Regions from separate parts of the Homo sapiens genome. Here regions 2, 3 and 4 are each linked to region 1. The links come from fine-mapping of genetic effects on gene expression. A gene starts in region 1. Each other region holds a variant in brackets. All regions are shown on one strand. Distances are from middle to middle.

Region 1 (5,151 bases):
TCAGAATGAGTGGTTCTGCACCAGTGGTTCTGGTGCTCAGAATGAGGGTCTTGGTGCTCAGCTGGTCACTCACTCCTTTGGTCAACAATAATCAAAAGGAACATCAAGGAAAACCTGCCAGAAAACCTTTCTCCTTGACTCCTGGCATGTGCCACAGAAGAGGTGGGGGCAGGAAGGGCTGGCCCACATGCTTCTGATGACAAACCAGGGTAGAACAAGCCGAGTTTGGAGAGCAGAGGTAGAGAAACACACAGCCCTATTTTATTGTATTTGGGAGAGAAGAAAAGGATGGGGAAAGTACGGACAATTCTAAACTATGGAATTTTTACTCCCACTCCACTAATTCGGGAAAAGGCTCCTCCACCACCACTTATCTTTCAAAAGCTTTCTTGATTATTAAACACAGAATGTCAGTCGGTACAATTACGCAGTCGGGCCAGAGCCGGACCGTCCAGCTCTTCTGTGAGTTCCGTCTGCCTGTGCTCCAGGCAGTAGTGAAAGAACCCAGGACAACGCGTTCCCAGTAAGCGCCTTCAATCTGCAGCACAATGTAAATATTCATAGGCGCCCGAGACCAACACCCGAGAGCAGAGGAAAAACGCCTGTATTTGAATGTTCATTTTCAGTTTCTCTCACTGTCCCAAAACCAAGAAAAAAAAAAAAAAAAGCACATGCGTGCCAAAGGATGCTCTAGAGAGAGGGAAGGGAGCGCCGGCTGCTCCTTCCAGGAAGACAACTGTGGGTCAGTTGAAGGGGGTCACAGACGGCCGAATCCCGGAGGTCGTTTCTGTCCACACGGAAGTTTGAAAACCGACCATTAAGTCCGGAAGAAATTCGGCCTGGGGGGTCCTGGGACACCACTTCTTTCAAGTTTGGATACGTAGTAGTTCACCAGCTCTCTGCGTTAGACAGCTGTCCGCAGCCTCCTTACATCCCCAACCCGGCACCCCGGTCCCCGCCCGAGCCACTCACCAACAAGCCACCGGCTCAGCCGCCACCGGCTGGGCCGCGAATCCCCGGGGAGCCGCGCTGGGGTCAGCAAACTGAACGCGAGTGGGCGGCCCACGGGCCGCGCGGAGCCCCAGCTGCGTCCTTATCAGCGCCGGGCAGAAGGGCGTCGCGGCGCGAGGGTGGGGCGCCGGTGCGCGCTGAGATCGACGCCCACACGCGCCGCGCCAGCTCTGCGGCGGGGAGAGAAGCCGCGGCCTGCGGGGCGGGGACTGCGGGGCGGGCGCCCAGCGCGGGCGTTGCACGACCCTCGGCCTTCCGCAGCGCCGACCGCTCTCCCGTCCGGCGGCTGCAGCTGCTGGGTCGGCCGCCGCACCCGCTCGCCCATTCCCGGCCCCTCCAGTTGGAGGGGGTCTCGGCCCCGCCCCCCTCCCCGAGGGGCCCACGCTGGAAAGCCCACGCTCCCCACGCCACGCCCCCCAGGGCGCCAGCCCCTCTGCGGGGGTTTAGCACGCTGCGCCCAGAAGTTGGGTGGGAGACGGCTAACTAGGGGAGGTGTCCGTGTGAATGAAACGAAAGGGGGGGTCTTCCGGCTCGCAGACACCGGGTCTGCGGCGGCCGCGCGCTCCCAACCCACCCGGAGCCTCCGCCGCGACATCTTCCCACGTCCCCCATCCAGGTCGCAGGCGCGGGGGAAAAGCCTCACGGCCGCACTGCGGCTCTGCCAAAAGGGAGCCGGGTCGAGCCGCTGAGAAAAACAGAGGGGAGACTCCTGGCGTTTGAAACCGGTCAGAACCCGCTCTCCAAGAGCTGGGGACACCCCTTGTTTGGAGGCTGATCCCCAGCCCACCCGCTTCCTCCCCCTCCCCACACTCCTGCAGGCGCGGGGCGCAACTTGCAATCCGAACTTCGCGCGGCCGGAGCAAGTTTGTCGGGGCGAGAAGCGCCTGGTCCTCGGTCCGCACCACCGCACTAGGTCCCCGCCACCGCCCCACCACTGTGTCAGGGGCCAGGCGTGGCCCCCGGCTGGCTAGGGAACCGAGCGCGGCGCCGCGGCTGCGCATTCCGTGCGGGACGCCGCTGTCTCCCAAGGGTCGGGATAAACTAGGGGGCGGTTGATCTGAAAGTCTTAGCCACGACTAATAGTCAACCGCCCAGGTGCGACCCGCAGCAGCCTTGGCGATGCAGCTCGTTCTCCAGACGCGGGTCCACACCGGCGCGTCCTCGCCTCCAGGGACCGATCGCTGTTCTCCGTGGCCGGGTAAGGGCGGCCGCCAAAGTCACCGGGGTGGATGTGGAGGGAACTGGAACCTCCTCTCCAGCTTTCCCGGTGAGGCTCGGAGGAAGCCGAGACCCGGCACCCATCAGCCGCGCTTCTCGGCGCCTCAGCCTCGGGTCCCGGACAACACCCCAACCCTGACCCTCCCGAGCGGCGGGGCTCCAGCTCCCCGTGTCCCGCGCCGCGGTCGCCCCCGCCTCGGCCGCCCGACCCGCACTCACCCGCGGCCAGCGCGCCCCCGCTCCCGGCGCGCAGACCGCTGCAGCCTCCCGCCGTTGTGTCGGCGTAGCCGCCTCCTCCCGGTCACTGCAGGCCCAGCCAACCCTGAGCGCGAGGGGGCAGGGCGGGGCGGGGCGCAGCGGCAGCCTCAGGTAACAAAGCTGCGGCCTCGCTGCTCCTGGCCGGCCGGGAAGGGCAGCGCGCCCTTTCCTGCTCCGCCCCTCCCTCGCCTCCCCTTCCACCCTACGCGCGCCACCGTCACCGCCACGCGCTCACCTTCACCTGCGCGGGGCCCCGGGGGAGACGCCTCGGGGCACACTGCTTCCCGCACCCGAAGGCTGGTGCGGGGCTAGGCCGGGGGCCACCGAGAGAAGTAGGGGCGGCAGGAGACGGAGATAGCTGGGCTGCCCAGAAGAGCCAGGTGTCCTCGGGGAACGGGCGAGAGGAGGCGCCAAGCTGGCTTCTGAACCTGCAAGTGCCTTTCACAAAGGAGCCTTTGCGACAGCCTCCCAGGCACCCTCTCTTGTGCACACGGGCGCGCACACACTCTTATATACACGCGCGCACACACACACACACACCCGCACACGCCCCCCGACGCACGCGCCAGACCACCCTCTGCCCCAACACTTGCTTCTCCCTGGAGAGCTAGCAGCACTTGGGCGAACTGACCTGTCCCAACCCCTACAGCTGAAACCTGGCTGCGCTAGAGCTTCGCAAAGGTCAGCTCCTCCCTGGGGCCTGCCAAGCTGTAAATTTGTTACCGTTTTTTATTTTGTTTTTGTTTTTAATTCTCAATGATGATGGTAACAGAAACCTTTAGGTTGTATTAAAGCGTAAAAAGACCCCTCAAAAATTTTGCCAGGCCTCATCGAATGAACGCACGCTGTCTGGGAAAGGCACACTCCTCACAGAAAGAAACAGGGGAATCGATTTAATCACATTTTTTTTTTCTTCAAAGTGACTTGGGGCGCCAGTGAGAAGCAAGTAGTCAAAGAAAACATCCCGGGCAAACCGGCTGACCGAAAATCCACTGTCGGGGTAGGGAGGCGCCCTCTACGGGGATGAAGTCATCGCTACCTTTGACTCTTTGATCCTAGATAACCGACCAAGACGTTTCCAGCCTAATGCCTGACGCCTTTTGCTTCCTCCATCCTGGTCCTCAGTCCCTGAACTCCCAGGACAGAATTCCTGACCTCCTTGGTCAAGCCTTGGATCGAGAAAGAGAAACTATTAGTGTAAACAAACCAATCAACCCCAAAACCAAAACTGTGCCTGCCAATAGCCCATTTCTTGGCCATTGATGGTGCATGAAGAGAAATGGATCCAATTAAGAAAATCTTAAAATCTTAAGGAATAAGAAAATGTAATAAAGAGAAAGACAATGTCATGCTCAGGGAGCTAATATGAATCCCAAAGGAATATTGACTGTTCAGGCTCAAGTTAAATTACAGCAGATCGAAAGTGAGGAGTTGAGTGGCATCTTCTTTTCTCTTACTGTCGACCTTGTTAAATGGGGAGTCCACACCCCTTGCCTACTCCTCCCTCCTCAACCCCGTGACAGTGGGCCTCCCCCCAACTGTATTGAGCATGCACTCTAAAACAGTTACTTTTTGAGAAGTCAAGTCTGGTGACCCATTCTCAGCCCCTCATCCCTTTGATCTCCTTGGCAGCATCCTACCCTAAGGCCTTCTCTATGCTTCTCTGGACTTCTCTGCTGACCCTTCTCTTCCTTTGAGGACAGTAACAAGGTTTTTCCAACTCTCGATCTCCCAGTATCCCAAAGAAATACCTTCTGATTTCAAACTGAACCCATCCAGATGTCGTGGGACCTGAAGCTTGTATAACTCCTGGGGGAACTTCTTAAAGGAAAGCAATAAAAACTTACAAACATAATACTAGACATGTATCCTTGGAAGGGCCCAGGGAAAATGAGGGGCTTGGAAATTTGAGCTTCAAGGTATATCTCCGGGTTTCTCTTCAATGTCAGGGACTCTTGAATCCATATTATCGTTGTAAAATTTCAAGTCCAAATAAAAATATCCAAAAATCAACTCATCTTTCCCTCAAAACTAGTACTCTTCCCACACCCACCACCTCCCCCTCTTTACCTAAGACCTGGTTTTTCTGTTTGAAATCCTAGCTTTTCCTTTGCTTGTCTCTCTTAAATTCTTTAAAATTCAAGTATTTGCTAAATTTGCTGCTCTTTCCCAAGTAACCTGTTTTATTTTTCACATGCACCATCACTGCAGTAACCCCAAGTAGTGGAAGAGGGAACAAGTATTTATCTGCTGTTGGCCACATATCAGGCACCACACTTAATTCTCACCATGATCCTATAAGCATTCTGATTTCCTAGCTTAGAGAAGTTAAATTGGATACCTACATCCACTACCTTGGTGTTCTTTCTGCTTCTCTCTTCTTCCTAAATCCATCCCAAAACTGCTGTCAGGTCACTGTTTTTAAAAGTCTGATTTCATCACACTACCTACCTCTTCAAAACCTTCTGCAGATTCCCATGTGCTCCTACAGGAAGAAGGCAGCATTCTTCAGTCTGACAATCCGGCAGCATCCTACGTTTATCTCCCACAATTGGATGCGTCCCATTTCACTCAAGCAGTGGGACGTACTGCCCCTGAATATGTCATGCTTATTTTGACTTTTTTTTTTTTTTTTTTTTTTGAGACGGGGTCTCACTGTCGCCA
Region 2 (5,151 bases), 83 kb before region 1:
GTGCCTCCTTCATAAAGCCTCCCCACTCCCCACCCAAATCCGAATTCATTGCTCCTCAAGAAGTCAGATAGCATGTTGCTTACACACTGGGCCTTCACCACATCCTTTCATGTTATTTATATGCGGTGTGGCTATTTACTTTCACATCTGTCTCCCTCTTTAGAGAATGCACTGTTCCCAGGACCCTTGTGCCGTTCGCCACAGCACCTAGCACAGACTAAATGCCACATAAGTGTTTGAGATACTGGTTTGAATTAGGAGTGGCCTGGAGGTGGGAAAGCAGGATGAGAACGAAGCCCCACTGGGACAAGCGACGTGTCCGTGTGTGCGTGTGTGCACATGGCGGTGGTGAGCAGGCATTTCTGCCATCTCTGCCCATCTGAATGTAGGGAATGAAGATGAGTGCTGGTTGGAAGTGGGGAAGCCATGAAGCAGAGCAGCTTGGGCTAAGGGTGGCCACGCTGCAGCCACGACAGGCCTCCCCGGGGCTCTGGCTCTCATCACATCAGGCTCTTTGGCTCTATTCAAACAGAGGCTGCCGGCTGGAACTTTAGCTTCTCACTGGGACTCTGAAAGAATGTGAGTCTATGCAGTTATCCCCAAGGCACTTGGCTGGAAGAGACCCCGGAAGGTTTCTAATTCAGTCTTTTCCCTGACAAATGGATAAAGCAACCTAACACTGAGCTCTCTTCCCATGGCCTCCTGATGGTGATACTGTCCACAGAGCAGGGATGCCGCAGAACCCAAGCGGAACGTGTGGGTCTGCCCTGAGGGGGCTTCCCAGAGCCCTGCTCTGGCTCTGCTGTGCCCTGGCAGAGGGGCCTGGGCTGGAGCTCAAGCAGGGCAAGGACTGTGGATCCAGATCCGGGTTTTGGGGAGTCCAAATCTTACCCAGTTGGGGGGAGCATTTTTTAAGAGAAAGCATACAAAATTGCAAACACAAAATGAAGTACAGGGCTTTGGAAGGAGCCTGCACAAGGAAGGATCCGAATCTTACACTTCACAAGCTTCACAATAAACTAACCTCTGGGGCAACCTAATGAGCTAGGAGGGTGTGTTGGTTTCCTGCCTATTAGCTGCTGTGCCACAGTACTGCAAATCGGATGGATTAAAACAGAGGAAATATATTTTCCCACAGTTCCAGAGGCTTCGAGACTTAGGTCAAGGTGCTGGCAGGGCCATGCCGCCTCTGAAAGCCACAGGGGAGTCCTTCCTTGACTCTTCCTAGCTTCTGCGGGCTTGCTGGCAGTCTTTGGGGTTTCTAGGCTTGCAGCCTCGTCACTCCAGTCTTTGCCTTCGTCCTCCCGCCATGTTCTCCCTGTGTGTCTGTGTTCACGTGGCTGTGTACATATAAGGACACCAGTCATCTAGGATTAGGGGCTCCCCCTACTCCAGTATGACTCCATCTAACTGACCACATCGGCAACAACCCTCTTTCCAAATGAGGTCACATTCTGAGGAATTGGGGTAAGAGCTTCTCTATTTCAACATATCTCTAGTTTGGGGATGGAGCACACAATTCAAACCATAACAGGTGCAGGAGGAGAGTGGGGAAGGAGGGGAGTGGGGCAGTAGTGAAGCGGTAGAAGCTGGGGGATCATTCTGGAGACAGGGTTGGGAGGTCACCAGTGGCTGTTCCACTAGGCTCTCTGGGTGAGGACAGCTTCCATCCCTTCCTGGGGCCACCTGGAGGACACAGAATCTCAGCAGACACCCTGCCAGCCGGCGCTGCTGCTTCATCTTTACTCCCACAGACTCGCAGCATCACATTGCTGATCCCAAGGAACCTTGGTGATTTCCCTTGGAAGCCTTACGCATCCCGGTGAAGGCAGGCCCATGCGTGTGGGTGGAGCATGTGCTGGAGTGAGGTCCACTGAAGCTCTGGTCCCCAGCAATTGAGAGTTCACAGCCTGGTGAAACACCAGGAATGAAGATCTGCCAACAAAACCACGTGTCGAAGCTTCCGGAGCCACAGAGCCATGAAGGTCAACTCCAAAATACTCACCACGCTCAGTGAAAGGGCGGATAAACAGGTGGTTAAAGCAGCAGGTAATTTTGGCTGGTCTGCATCACTGTTTATGGTTTTATTTCCTCTAAGAGATTTGCCCTCTTAATTATGTTTTGCTTAATCTCAAAAATGAATTTACGTTCCCTGAGCAGCCTGCAGCACAGGGGTGGGAGAAGCCCAAAGTGTTCTGGGTGGCAGGGAGAAGCCAGATGGTATTAAAAACAGACAGATCATAACAAAGTGGGTGCTCCACATGCATTCAGTAAACACAGCCGGCCCAGCAAGGTCAACCATGGGCTGGTCTGGTTGCTTCAACATTCTAATTAACTGGGTGCCAGAGACGCCGTGCCATTTTCAGAGAATCAAGTTCCAGTGAAATA[C/A]ACCCAAGGTTAAAGTGCTCCAGAACACGGCCCACCCGTGCTGGTTTGTCGACACCTCAGAATCCAGCAGGGGCCCAGGGACATCGCCCTGCGTGTAAATTACCCATGGATACAGTGCTGCACTTGTGAGCCATGTGGGGGACTGGCTACATCCTGCTGGCCCTGTGATATAACATAGAAGCTGCCTCTTAGTCACACCAGTCGATGATAGGAACAACAGGCTTTGGGGTCGTTTGGATTCTAGATTAAAAAGCAAGGTTAAAATGGAGAGTTGATTGCATTTGTATTTGAGGTCATGGAACAGAGCGCACTGGTTGACCAGTTGTGTTAAGAGCATGTTTGAGCTTGCCAAGCAGGGAAAGGCAGGCTCTGTGTGACCCAGCCCCACCCCCACCCACACGCAGGAGAAGAAGAAGGACAGCCTCTCTGCCCCTTGGATGGTGCCATTTAAGGCTCTTCTGTGACTCTTTAGTTGGCTTTTGTGCCACCCTGCTGTGGGCTCATGGGCTTTCACTCAAAGAATCAAAACCTCCGTCCCCTCTGCCTTTTAGTCCCCCAGACCTTAAGTCTCACTTTTCTGTAGGGTGACAGTTCTCCTTCTCCCACACTTGTGCTCAGCAGCCATCTTTCAGAAAGCAGGGCTGCCCTTCAGAGTCCACTGCCCACAGCAACCTCCTGACAGTCCTGCTCTCAGCTCCAGCCCCAGGAGACCCACAAAACAGCAGCTCACAGATATGCACAGTCTGCCGCCTTAAAAGCATGAAACAGGTTGTGGCCCATGGGAAAGCTTTTTTTGCAGCTGTCACCAAGCTGGCATGAGATGAGTGCTTGCAGTATGGTGGCTGAAAGCTGTTTAGTGTTGTCTGCTTTGTGTATGTCACCTAACTGTGGCCTTGCATTTATTCTACTTGGTGACTGCCAAAGCACTGCAAACTGGAAACATCTGCTAGATAATTGATATGTGATCAATAGGGACCATGTCTATGTTTGCTCTCATTCTAACCCCCAGTGACTGGCATAGTGCCCCGCACAGAGGAGGCCCTTTTAGTTAAATGAATAAAAGAGTAAATGAACAAATGACATCGAAATGAGAGGCATGGCGATCAGAACAGAAAAAACCCAGGTGAACCAAAGAAACTGGGCAAGGCTCCATGAAGGAGTGTGATCCTGTTTGGCTCTGCATCCCCACCCAAATCTCACCTAGAATTGTAATCTTCACGTGTCAAGGGAGGACCTGGTGGGAGGTGATTGGATCATGGGGGCGGTTTCCCCCGTGGTGTTCTCCTGATAGTAAGTTCTCATGAGATCTGATGGTTTTAAAAGTGTAGTACCTCCCCCCTACCTCCTACTGCCATGTAAGATGTGTCTTGCTTCCCTTTTGGCTTCCGCCATGATTGTAAATTTCCTGAGACCTCTCCAGCCATGTGGAACTGTGAGTCAACTAAACCTCTTTCCTTTATAAATGACTCAGTCTCAGGTAGTTCTTTATAGCAGTGTGAAAATGGACTAATACAGAGTAAGACCTGGGCTGGGCAACTGAGACTAGTGGGATTTAACCCAGAAATGAGACGGAGAAACCAGAGCCATTTCTGTCAAATATCTTCCAGGGAGAAAAAGGCCTGTGCCACTAGGGATGTTGGGGGCTCAGTTAGTTAACAACCCTCCTTCCCTAGTCTCAGGGTGGTTATTTCTCCATGGGACCAAGCTAGATCCTGACATGGAAGCTTTAGGAATTCGAGATCATACAGCACAGCCAGCTGGTAGAGGCCAACAAGAGGCAAGGAAGGCAAAGAGATATAATCGTCCAGTGGGGGACTCTGTCACTAAGGTATTGGTAGTTAACTAGTCATCTGTGCTACCAGAGTCCAAAAGATGCCTCCACTCCAGACCCCAAGAGCAATAGTGGGTGCAAGCAATGAGTGTGAATTCATGTTGTGCTTAGGCAATGGGGCCCTGAGTGGCTGTGCTCTACGCTCTGGAGGAGAAGGATTAAGGAAAGTCTACATCATCCTCCTCCTTAGTACCCTGGACTCTTAACCACTTGCACTGACAGGTTTTCCACTCGGGCTTCTTGGATTTCCCCTAAGGAAATTTTTCAACAGCACCACCTACTCCCAGTGTCCCATTTTGGTTCTCACACAGGCTCATCCATTCACACATACTTATCCAGCACCTGCCACGTGCAAAGCTCTCTCCCAGGAACGGGCATGGTGCAAACCAGGCAGGGTCCCTGCCTTCATAGAACTTACAGTCTACAGCAAGGAAAACAGAGAACAAAGAAGGAGAGGGAAGGAAAGAAGGAAGGAGAGAAAAGGAAGGAAGGAAGGAAGGAAGAGGATGGGAAGGAAGGAGGAAGGGAGGGAGGGAGGGAGGGATTAATTGCTGGTGTTTGCTGGTATGAAAGGCACAATAAAGAACATCAGCCAGGACAGCATGACAGAGCATGTAATAACGTGCGTGGCAACTTTAGATACGGTGGTTGGTAAAAGAAGGTAGCGCTGAAGAAGTGACATTTGAACTGAAAGCCATAGGTAAAGAAAACTCATGCCAAACGTCAATAAAGAAAGATAGGGAATAAAGTTTTGAAATTATCCCAATTAGACACTGAGATGTATTGTTATTAACAACAACTAACCAAAGCGGCTTAACTAAGTTAGAGGCTTATTTCTCTCACATAAAATAAATATATAAGTAAGCAGCCCTGAACTAGTACAGCAGCTCATCAGGGTCCTAGCTCTGTCTAGCCTTCTGTTTCACTCTTTC
Region 3 (5,151 bases), 140 kb before region 1:
GGTGCTAGCGCAGGGCTGTTTTCCCTTTCTTGCCTGGGGATAGCAGCTCCCACCAGCTGTGCACTTTGCTGGACAACTCCTTCTGCCCCACCAGGCCCTGCTGTAACTACAAGAGCAGCACGTGAGACTTCTTTCCACATGGATTGGTAGTTCTGTCAAGTGGAATTTAATCCTTCCAAATCAGAAGGATTATTTTGGATAAGCCATTAAAATTGTTAATTAAAATGTTAGTGTCTGATTGCCATTATTCTCTGCTTATAAGAATTCTCTCAGATCCTGGTGTGTGGCACCTCTCTTTCCGCACTCCCATCTAACCCAAGTGAAACCCAGGGCCTTGCTATCACCTTCATTCCTGCCTGTGCCTGAGGAACCCTCCAAAGGTGCGCATGAGGCCTAAAATGAAAAGGGCATTTAAAGACACACTCGAAGGTGAAAGAAGACAGAATATTTGGACTGAATATTTCTGGAGCCTCTAGCATATGCAAGGTAACTTTGGTGAAGAAGAATTAGACATGGTCATTGTCCTCAAGCAGCTTACCATCTAAAGTGAGAAAGCACAAAAGTTTAGACAGTCCTAGAAGGTGTATTTGCATAGTTCTCCAGGTGAGAAACATCATCAAGTAATAGAAATTGATTGCCTGTTAGTGAAACAGACTATAAGGACTCCAAATGTCCAGAAAAGGAAAGGATCCCTGTAGGCTGAGTGGTCTGAGGAGACTTTACTGAACCAAGAGGTAAGGCTGGATGGGATTTGAGCAGGATTTGTGACAGAAGACGGGAGTTTCCAAGAGGGAAGAACCCATGAATCAGAATATGGAGATGAGAATGCTCAGGCCTCTTTGAATACTATACTGAAAGGACCGGCTCATCAAGAGTTTGAGGGTTTGGAAAGGAGAATTAGGGGTAAATTTCTTTGAGTAAGTTGGTCACAGTGGCCTAGAGCCCTGAATTCCAGCAGCTTGGCCTGTGTGGGTGATGGAGGATCTGAGAAAGTTTTAGAGCTGAGGTAGGAAGAGCCCTTCAGGCTATTGACTATTAGAGCCCATTATTGAACACCCATTGTGTTCACTCTAATCCTTACAGAACCCTGCAAGGCAGATACAATCACTTTCACCATGGCTTGAAGAACTGCAGTTCCCAGGGAAGGCAAGGGGGTGGGGGGCATCAAATGGAGGCTTATCAGATGCAAGATGAGGCTCTCTCCAACACACCATTTTCCCTCCCTGTTGCTATAGTGGGGCATGAAGCCAGGACGCCTGCACGAGATGTGGAAAGATTAAGAAAGATGTGAGGAAAACATGAAGGAAAAACTGACAAGACCGGGTGAGCAATTACATTTGGGAGGAGACTAAAAAAGAAGAGTTAAATAAAGCTTCATTTTATTCTTTAAGCAAGAACTTACTGTTACTACCATTGTCAGCTCTTTGAAGAGAGAACAAACGACTGTAACATTGTCCCGCTACTCAGAACATTACAGTCAAGTATGAGATGTTATAAATATACATTAATATGTATAATATAGGAAAGAATTAGATAAATGCAATAAAGGCAACATATACCGTCCTGTAGAAGATTAGAAGGAGAAAAATCTAAGTGGTAAAATCAAGCATTAACTGAAAAGAAAATATTTGATCTGGACTTTAAGAAATGGATACAGCTTTGACTGGCAGGGAGAGGAAGTGAGAAGAGGATTGTCTAGCTCAGAGTTTCCCCACCTTGGCACTATTGATATTTTGGGTGGATAATTCTTTGCTGGGGGCGGGGGCTGTCCTGTGCATTGTAGAATGTTTAGCAGCATCTCTGGCCCCTACTTGCTAGATACAGCTCCCAGCTGTGACAACCAAAAATGTCTCCAGACATTGCTGAATTTCCCTTGGAGGGCAACCTTGGTTAAGAACCACTGTTCTAATCTAAGAGGATGATGTGAGAAAGAGAGTATGTTTGGGGAATAAAGAGGCATCTGTATCAGCCTGTTTGAAAATGTATTTCTTGGAACATTAGTGTCTTGTGAGATAAGTGAT[A/G]GTCCCTTAAACAGGATTCATGGTCAAATAGCATTGAGAAATACCACATACTTTTCCCCTCAATTGGAGGCTCACAATGTACATTAGAATAGTAAAGGCTTTGAGAGATTGTGCAAGAAAGCTGTCTGACTTTGGTTAAATTTAATTACCACAGAACATTTTTATTCAAGAAATAGTATTAGCCTCCTGAAGGGCTCTATTGTATGGCAGAACACAACTTGGAAAATGATTTGTATTCAACCAAAATATAGGGTGTATGAAAGGTTTAAAGCTGAAGAAGTACAGATAGAGTCTAGAACCAGATTCAAAGGGCTTGGAACTAAGCTAAGAAGTCTGAATTTTATGTAGTCAACAAGAGGGAGGTAACCAGCAGGTAACATGATTAAAACTATGCTTTATTCATTCAACAGATATTAAACAACATTAGTCTGGTGGCAGCAAGCCAAATAGATTAGAAGATAGAGAAACAGGAACTAAAGCACCTTGTTACTGTAAAAGCAATAACTTAAGAGTGATAATGACGAAAAGAAGGGGAACATGTAAACATGTAACAAATATCTAGAGATTAACAGAATATAATGTCTGATTTGTTGGATGGTGGAACAAGAAAAGGAGTCAATGATGACTATGACTTTTTAGGCCCAAGTTACTAGGAGCTTCTTGATATCTTTAACAGAGAAAGAATAGTAAGGAAAAGTAGCAGATTTGGGGAGAAAGTAACTCACTTTTGGACATTTTGAGTTTGAGATGTTGGCAGGACATCCAGGAATAGGTATCCAGGGGGTAGCTGGAATTATGAGTGAAGAGTGAAAATTCAATTGCAAATAAATTTTGTGGTGTTACCTTCCTTAAGGTAATAATATAAGTTGTGAATTGAATGTGGTAACTAATGGGAGAAGAGTAGGGAAAGAAGAAAAGGAGAAGGCTCAGAACAGGGACTTGGAGAATATCTACATTGAAAGAGAGAACTATCATATAATAATCTTAATATGCTATGGTTTGGCTGTATCCCCACCCAAATCTCATCTTGAACTGTAGCTCCCATAATTCCCATGTGTTGTGGGAGGGACCCAGTGGGAGATAACTGAATCATAAAGGTGGTTTCCCTAATACTGTTCTCATGGTAGTGAATAAGTCTCACAAAATCTGATAATTTTATCTTGGCTCTCATTCCCTCTTGCCTGCCACCATGGTAGAAGTCCCTTTGCTCTTCCTTCATCTTCTACCATGATTTTGAGGCCTTCCCAGCCATGTGGAACTGTGAGTCAATTAAACCTCTTTCCTTTATAAATTACCCAGTCTCAGTATGTCTTTATTAGCAGTGTGAGAACAGACTAATACATAATAGATGCAGAAAAAGCATTTGATTAAATTCAATATACATTGATGACAAAATAGAAGAGAACTTGCTTAATCTGATAAAAGATATCTACAAGAAAATCTATAGCAAACATCATATTTAATCATCCAATATTAAAATCCTTTCCCTGAGATTGGTAATGACACAGAGATGCCCCCATTACCACTTTTATTCAGCATCATTTCAGAGGCCTTAGCCAGTGCAAGAAGGCAAGAAAAAAAATGTAAAAGGATTGGGAAAGAAGAAATAAAACCACCATTTTTATTTTCAGAAGTCCAATAAAATCTACAGATGAGCTATTAGAATTAATAAATTCAATAAATTTGCTGGCTATAAAGTCAATACATAAAAATCAATTATATTTCAAAATATCCACAACAAATAATTAGAAAGCTAATTTTAAAACTTGATGCCATTTACAATAGCATTAATAGAATCAAACATTTAGGAATAAATTCAACAAATAAGTAAAAGATCTCTATACATAAACTATAAACATTTTCTGACATTAAAGAAAATCTAAATAAATCTAAGAAAATCTAAATAAATCTAAATAATACTTGTGGATTGGAACACATAGTGTAAAAATGTCAATTTCCCTTCAAATTCATCCATAGATTCAATGTAAACCTCAAAGATATCTTGGCAGGCTTATTTTGTTTTGTTTGCATGTGGAATACAAAGGACCAAGAGTGTTTAGGACAATCTTGAAGAACATCACTGAAACACTTACACTAGATAACACAAGTAATAAGAATGCTGGATAATTCAGTCACTGTGGTATTGGCAGAAAGAGAGACAAGTAGATCAATGGAACAGAATAGAGTACAAAAACTAGACCAACACTTGATTTATAACAAAGATGGTATTGTACAGAAGGGAAAGGACAGTCTGCTTAATGAGTGGTTCTGGGCCAATAGATATGAGAATGGAAAAAACCTCATCTTAATCTATCTCACATCATTAAAAAAAAATCCAGCTGGATAGTAGATCTAAAATGTGAAAAGTGAAACAATTACAATTTAAAAGATAACACAGGAGATATCTTTATGATAGTAAGGTATGCAAAGATTTCTTACCAGGACATGAAAATCACCAACCAGAAGAGAAAACGTTTATAAATTAGACTATTTAAAATAAAGAATTTCTGTTCATCAATAGATACCATTTTAAGATAGTGAAAAGGGAAGCAAGCCACAAACTGAAAGAAGAGATATGCAATATATATTTCTAACAAAGGACTCATTCAGAGTGAATAAAGAAGTCCTTTAAGTTACTGAGAGAAAAAAAAAAAAACAGGAAAGGAAAGTATTTAAAAAATGGGCAAGAGACTTAGCATGTACATCACAAGAGATTATCCAGATGGCCAATATGCATCTGAAAAGGTAGTCAGTCTAATTATTCATCAAGAAAATGCAAATGTCAACCACAATTAAATACCATTTTTTAACTTGCCAGAATGGCCAATAGTAAACAATTAAGTATTGGTGAGGATGTGGAACAACTAGAAGTCTCATACTCTGTTGGTGGGTATGCAAACTGGTACAACTTTGGAAAACTGTTTGGCAGCATCTGCTAAAGCTGAACATATGCATACCTGTGACTCAGACATTCTACTCCTAGGTATATAGTCAACAGAAATGCATGCATGTGTACATAAAAAGACATGTTAAAAACTTTATAGGAGTACTATTCATAATAAAAACAAGAAACAACACAAATGTCCTTCAATATTTATAATTTGTTATATAAGTAAATGATAATAAATTT
Region 4 (5,151 bases), 31 kb before region 1:
GTGTTTGTAACAAGAAAATTAGTTTGGTTTTACTTGAAGGAAAATACAGAGCACATGTTTAATAATAAAAATAAACTCACAGCAGAGCCAAACAAAATCAAGCATCCGCCGAAGGCCATAATATTTTGAAGGAGCTGAATTAAGAAGCGAAGGCTTCAGCTGGCACAACCTCAGGAGCACACTGTTCCTCCCCAGTGCCAAGGGCAGCCCTGCTACATGATTCCACCTCACAGGTCTCAAAACACTAACAACACTTCAGGTAGCATAGCCTTTCGCTGAAGACTAAAAGCATGAGATGGTGCCTTTTTTTTTTTTTTTAATAAGGAAGATAAAAGAAGTATGTCAGACTATGCGATTAGTGAGTCACAGTGAGCTGTCACAAACATGTCCACTCTGCTGTTTTTTGTTGATGTTATTTGGAGCAGCTCCCGACACACCCTGTGGGCCCTGCGTACTCCTGGTGTTGACGGGCACAGCTCTCATGTGTTCTGCTGCTCTCATTATAAAACATGCCAAAACGCAGCTTGTTTCTTCAACATAAACAAGTGAAGAAATGACAGCCCAAGTTCTAAGGCATCTTGATTTCTGTGGAACTTTGTTCTGTTATCCGAAAGTTTAACTGGTTTAGAAACAAAACTTGAGTTGCCAGGTATAGCCCAAGTGCAACTCCATGGCTGATACCAGTTCACCACAGTAAACTGCAATCGTGCAAACTGAGCAGTGAACAACAGGAGCCTCGCAGAAGCACTGTCCCTAAACAAATACATCAGGCTTGGGCTGGGCGCGGTGGCTCACACCTGTAATCCCAGCACTTTGGGAGGCCCAGTGAGTGCGGATCACCTGAGGTCGGGAGTTTGAGAGCAGCCTGGCCAACATGGCAAAACCGCGTCTCTACTGAAAAAATACAAAAATTAGCCAGGTGTGGTGGTGCATGCCTGTAGCCCCCAGCTACTCGGGAGGCTGAGGCAGGAGAATTGCTTGAACTAGGGAGGCGGAGGTTGCAGTTTGCCGAGATCGCACCATTATACTCCAGCCTGGGTGACAGAGCAAGACTCCCTCTCAAGACAAACAAACAAACAAGTCAAACAAACGAAGAGACAAAAAAAAAAAATATATCAGGCTTAGATCACATTTAACATCCTCTGCAAAGAATGGGCATGGAAATACCAAGTTCCTCTGACTAACTTGGAGAAAAAAAATATGAATGGGAACTGCTGCTTCCACAAATACACCCATGCAAATTTAACCAGCCCCGGGGTGCTGCTGGGAGATGAGATTAGAGGGACTGACTTGAGTCACCTACAAACCTGAAGAAAATCTTCCATCTGCTGACAAAGTTCACCATCCCGCTGGATGTTTTCTTTTAGTGATTTTGTCCTGACAAACAGCAAGTGCAGTTCTGCCTCCGTGTTCTCCAGAGATAATCTAAAAGAAGAAAGGGGAGAGTGGGCAGTTGGAACAAGGAAGCCATGTGTCATGTAGGTATATTAAATAAGACTAACTGTTGTTCAACCTTGGAAACAGAAGGGGAGAGCTACTGTGATGATATTTATCTACCCCTGTATTTAGATCTTTTGTGTTTCCTCCTGTTTTAAGAAGTGATTCGTTTCTAAAGACATATACTGGTTCAAAGAGAGCAGGTTGTAACTGTACTCTTGATGGTAAGATAAACAAAACCATGGGATCTGCAAACGTTTTCATAAACTAGCTCTGAACACCTTTATGCAATAAGCATTACAAACTAAATGCCAGCGGCTTCCGGGATTCATATGCTTTCCATGGGCCACTAAACACAAATAGGAAACTCTAACCCACAAGAAGCAAGGCAATATATGTTGATAATTCTAACACTAAGGGTAACAGTGAGAAAATAGCAGATTCCATGAAAATAGCAGATTCCACAGGTGGCCAGAGCAGGCTTTCTATATTTTACAGAGAACTAAAACATAGCTAACAAATGTGCAACTTTTTTTTTTTTGAGACACAATCTCCCTCTGTCACTCAGGCTGGATTGCAGTGGCCTGATCTTGGCTCACTGCAACCTCTGCCTCCTGGGTTCAAGCAATTCTCATGCCTCAGCCTCCAGAGTAGTTGGGATTATAGGCATGTGCCATCATGCCCAGCTTAATTTTTGTATTTTTAGTGGAGACGGGGTTTCGCCATGTTGGCCAGGCTGGTCTAGAACCCCTGAGCTCAAATGATCTGCCCACCTCAGCCTCCCAAAGTGCTAGGATTACAGGTGTGAGCCACCAGGCCCAGCTGATTTTTATTATTATTATTATTTAAAGAGACAGTCTCACTCTGTTGCCCAAGCTGAAGAGCAGTGGCAAGATCATGGCTCACTGCAGCACTGACCTCCTGGGCTCAGGTGATCCTCTCACCACAGCCTTCCAAGTA[A/G]TTGGGATCACAGGTGTGCGCCACCACACCCAGCTAATTTTTAAATTTTTTGTAGAGACAGGGTCTTACTATGTTGCCCAGACTGGTCTCAAACTACTGGTCTCAAGCAGTCTTCCTGCCTTGGCCTCCCAAAGTGCTGGGATCACAGGCATGAGCCACCACAGCCAGCCCTAATTCTGCAAATTAACAGTTGGATTGATTGCAATGCTTTTGTTATATACATCAAATCAAGATAGGCAGAATGTGGGCCTGGCATGGTAGCTCAGGCCTGTAATCCCAGCACTTTGAGAGGGTGGGGCGGGCAGATCACCTAAGGTCAGAAGTTCGAGACCAGCCTGGCCAGTATGGTGAAACCCTGTCTCTACTAAAAATACAAAAAAATTAACTGGGCATGGTGGCGGGTGCCTGTAGTCCCAGCTACTTGGGAGGCCGATGCAGGAGAATCACTTGAACCCAGGAGGCAGAGATTACAATGAGCCAAGATTGCACCACTGAACTCCAGCCTGGGTGACACAGCGAGGCTCTATCTCAAAAAAAACAAAAGATAGGCAGAATGTGAATGATGGTTTTGTTACCCAGAAAACTGAGTAGGCGAAACCTAAAATGCATGTGAAATTCATAAATTAGGATGCATTCATGCTTCCATTGTCAATTCAAATGTTTCTTTGTGCAATAAAGTTTTCCACCTTCACTGGTCACCGGCACATATCTGAGACCTGTTTGTATTTCCCAAGTGTATTTCACCTTCCATTTCAAATAAACAAGCTTGCTGAATAGGATTTTTCTAAGACAATATCTAGCTCCAATCCAGCTCTGACCAGAAACGCCATTTCAAAAATATAATGCTAATTTCTATCTATATATCTCTTAGGAATATTTTTATACTAATTACAGTAAAAATGTTCCCACACAAATTTCTTTCAGTAAGTCAAAAGTTCCTATCTTATAAGATGTCCATTCTTTTTAGAGAACAATCTAGAGATCTGTAAACATGAATTATAAACTGTTTACACCTCTGAACTGATAATCCCACTTTGGGAAAGACATGTAATCTGTGGCTAGATATTCATAGAATCAGTAACTTTTGAGGTACAGGCCAGTGGCAGGGCTGTGAGCTATGGTTCATTTATTTATATGCATATGGTTCACAGATGTCATAGTTGGATACACTCAGTAAGTATATGCTAGGAACTGGCTTGACACATGAGCGGTGGCTGAACCTGCTCATGAGAACCAACTGTGGGTGTCTCTTCCTAATTTGCATTCAGTAATGTATGTCAGCAGCTTGACATCAGCCATGGTTACGGTATTTACAACACGGAAATCAGCAAATGCTACAAATCAGGACTTTTTTCTCCAACAGCTGGTTATTGAACATTTACCGTGGGATGTGTGGATGTAATATAAATTTTAAAACACATATACAAAAGTCAAAATAGTATATACACACAGAGTCTAGCTACATTAAGATACATATCTACATTAGGATCAGAAGCAAATTAGAGTGATGTAATTAGAGCCTTATGTTTGGCAGATACTTTCTCTGTATGTGCCTTTCTCTGTGAGTGACTAATTTAAAGTAAAATCATTTCACAGCTCTTGGTACGGTTACAAACTCTTTTAATGCAAAGGAAAATAAATGTACCATGTTAGATTCTACAAGGAAACAGTGAAATGTGGCCATGAAAGTTTGATTGATATATACCAACTCCCAAGGAAATAGGTGGTGCTGTTTAAGCTCTATCTCTTGGGCGTGGAGGGATTTGAAATTATTAATCCATATTTTTTATACTGATGATATTCATTAGAATAGACTGAAATAGTTTCTTTAGTTTACAAATAAAGATTAATTTTTCAAAACCCCCAAATTCCAAAGGTGCACACACACCTGTGTTAAGCAAATGAAGGACAGTCTGAAAGTTCAATGAAACAAAACCTTTTAGACTTCAAACTGGAATCTAAAAGTTTTAACTATTTATCAGTTTTCATAAAAAGGTAAAGAATCTTGAATTCTCACAATTCACTTGCTCACCTAGCAGTCTTCTGAACATGATGCAATTTTTCTGAAAAGTTTAGAAGAATGGTATCTTTCTTTTGGGCTTCCTGGAACAAAAACAGAATTTTATCTCACTATGTTGATAAAACTGGAAGGAAATAATTTTCTTAGGGCTTAAAGGAATCTTAAAATCACTGCTCCTGTTTTTAAACTTGACACATTCAAAGCATTTCACTGAGACATGAACTCTGATACTCTTAGTAAGATTTGCTAGAACTCTCCTACTCTCAAGATACATTTACCTTTCCAGAGCAATTGATCTTGACACAAAATACAATTAATGAGCATTTGGCTGCAGCTCAGCAGGGCCCCTTGTTTCTGAAAGAATCCAATATATCCTGCTTAAATACCACCCATACCTGTGAGCATGCCTTTAAATGAGCGAGATACCTTCAGCTGTTAAACCAGTTTGCAAACAGAGTTTAATCAGAAGGTACAGGAGCCATGGCAGTGTTTGGATTCTTCACCTGTTCAGGAGGTGAGAGGAAGGCAAGTGGGAAGGAAGCAATGACTGACCCAGGAGGCTTCGCCACATGGACAGAGACCAAGTTACCCAGAGGGCCTGGACACTTGGATTCAGGAGAGCTTTGCCCGAATACTATCCACGACCCTTGCTGGGCAAGGAACACATTTTCTTCTTTTAATGCCTGAAAATTAACCTTTCAATTAAGTCCCAAGCTAAACATGGCCCTTTGTCT

Which allele goes with the higher level. Alleles are on the strand shown, and positions count from the first base shown. SD is a standard deviation of normalised expression in the study named.
As copies of A replace C in region 2, the expression in cerebellum of the gene that starts at base 2,535 in region 1 goes up (small effect, 0.30 SD a copy in GTEx).
As copies of A replace G in region 3, the expression in tibial nerve of the gene that starts at base 2,535 in region 1 goes up (small effect, 0.21 SD a copy in GTEx).
In carriers of allele G in region 4, the expression in esophagus mucosa of the gene that starts at base 2,535 in region 1 tends to be higher than with A alone (small effect, 0.14 SD a copy in GTEx).

Evidence for each region. PIP is the estimated chance that this variant, and not a neighbour inherited with it, causes the effect.
Region 2: its variant is the best candidate, but not a certain one, in a credible set for the expression of FHDC1 in cerebellum (GTEx, PIP 0.90).
Region 3: its variant is the best candidate, but not a certain one, in a credible set for the expression of FHDC1 in tibial nerve (GTEx, PIP 0.86).
Region 4: its variant is the best candidate, but not a certain one, in a credible set for the expression of FHDC1 in esophagus mucosa (GTEx, PIP 0.84).

What each region holds. Positions count from the first base shown.
Region 1 is chr4:152,933,707-152,938,857 of GRCh38, reverse strand. FHDC1 (FH2 domain containing 1) reads right to left here and starts at 2,535. Exons shown (of 12, transcript NM_001371116.1): 1 at 2,449-2,535. It overlaps LOC729870 (a long non-coding RNA gene), which reads left to right and starts at 2,021. Exons shown (of 2, transcript NR_136614.1): 1 at 2,021-2,209; 2 at 3,408-4,342. RefSeq lists silencers at 898-1,157, 2,490-2,579.
Region 2 is chr4:153,016,902-153,022,052 of GRCh38, reverse strand. No RefSeq gene overlaps it. Among named protein-coding and RNA genes, the nearest start is that of FHDC1, 83 kb to the right of the region's middle. RefSeq lists an enhancer at 83-878. The variant C/A (reference allele first, on the strand shown) is at 2,389.
Region 3 is chr4:153,071,982-153,077,132 of GRCh38, reverse strand. No RefSeq gene overlaps it. Among named protein-coding and RNA genes, the nearest start is that of TRIM2, 130 kb to the left of the region's middle. The variant A/G (reference allele first, on the strand shown) is at 2,022.
Region 4 is chr4:152,964,254-152,969,404 of GRCh38, reverse strand. It overlaps FHDC1 (FH2 domain containing 1), which reads right to left. Exons shown (of 12, transcript NM_001371116.1): 9 at 4,430-4,500; 10 at 1,308-1,425. Among named protein-coding and RNA genes, the nearest start is that of FHDC1, 31 kb to the right of the region's middle. The variant A/G (reference allele first, on the strand shown) is at 2,398.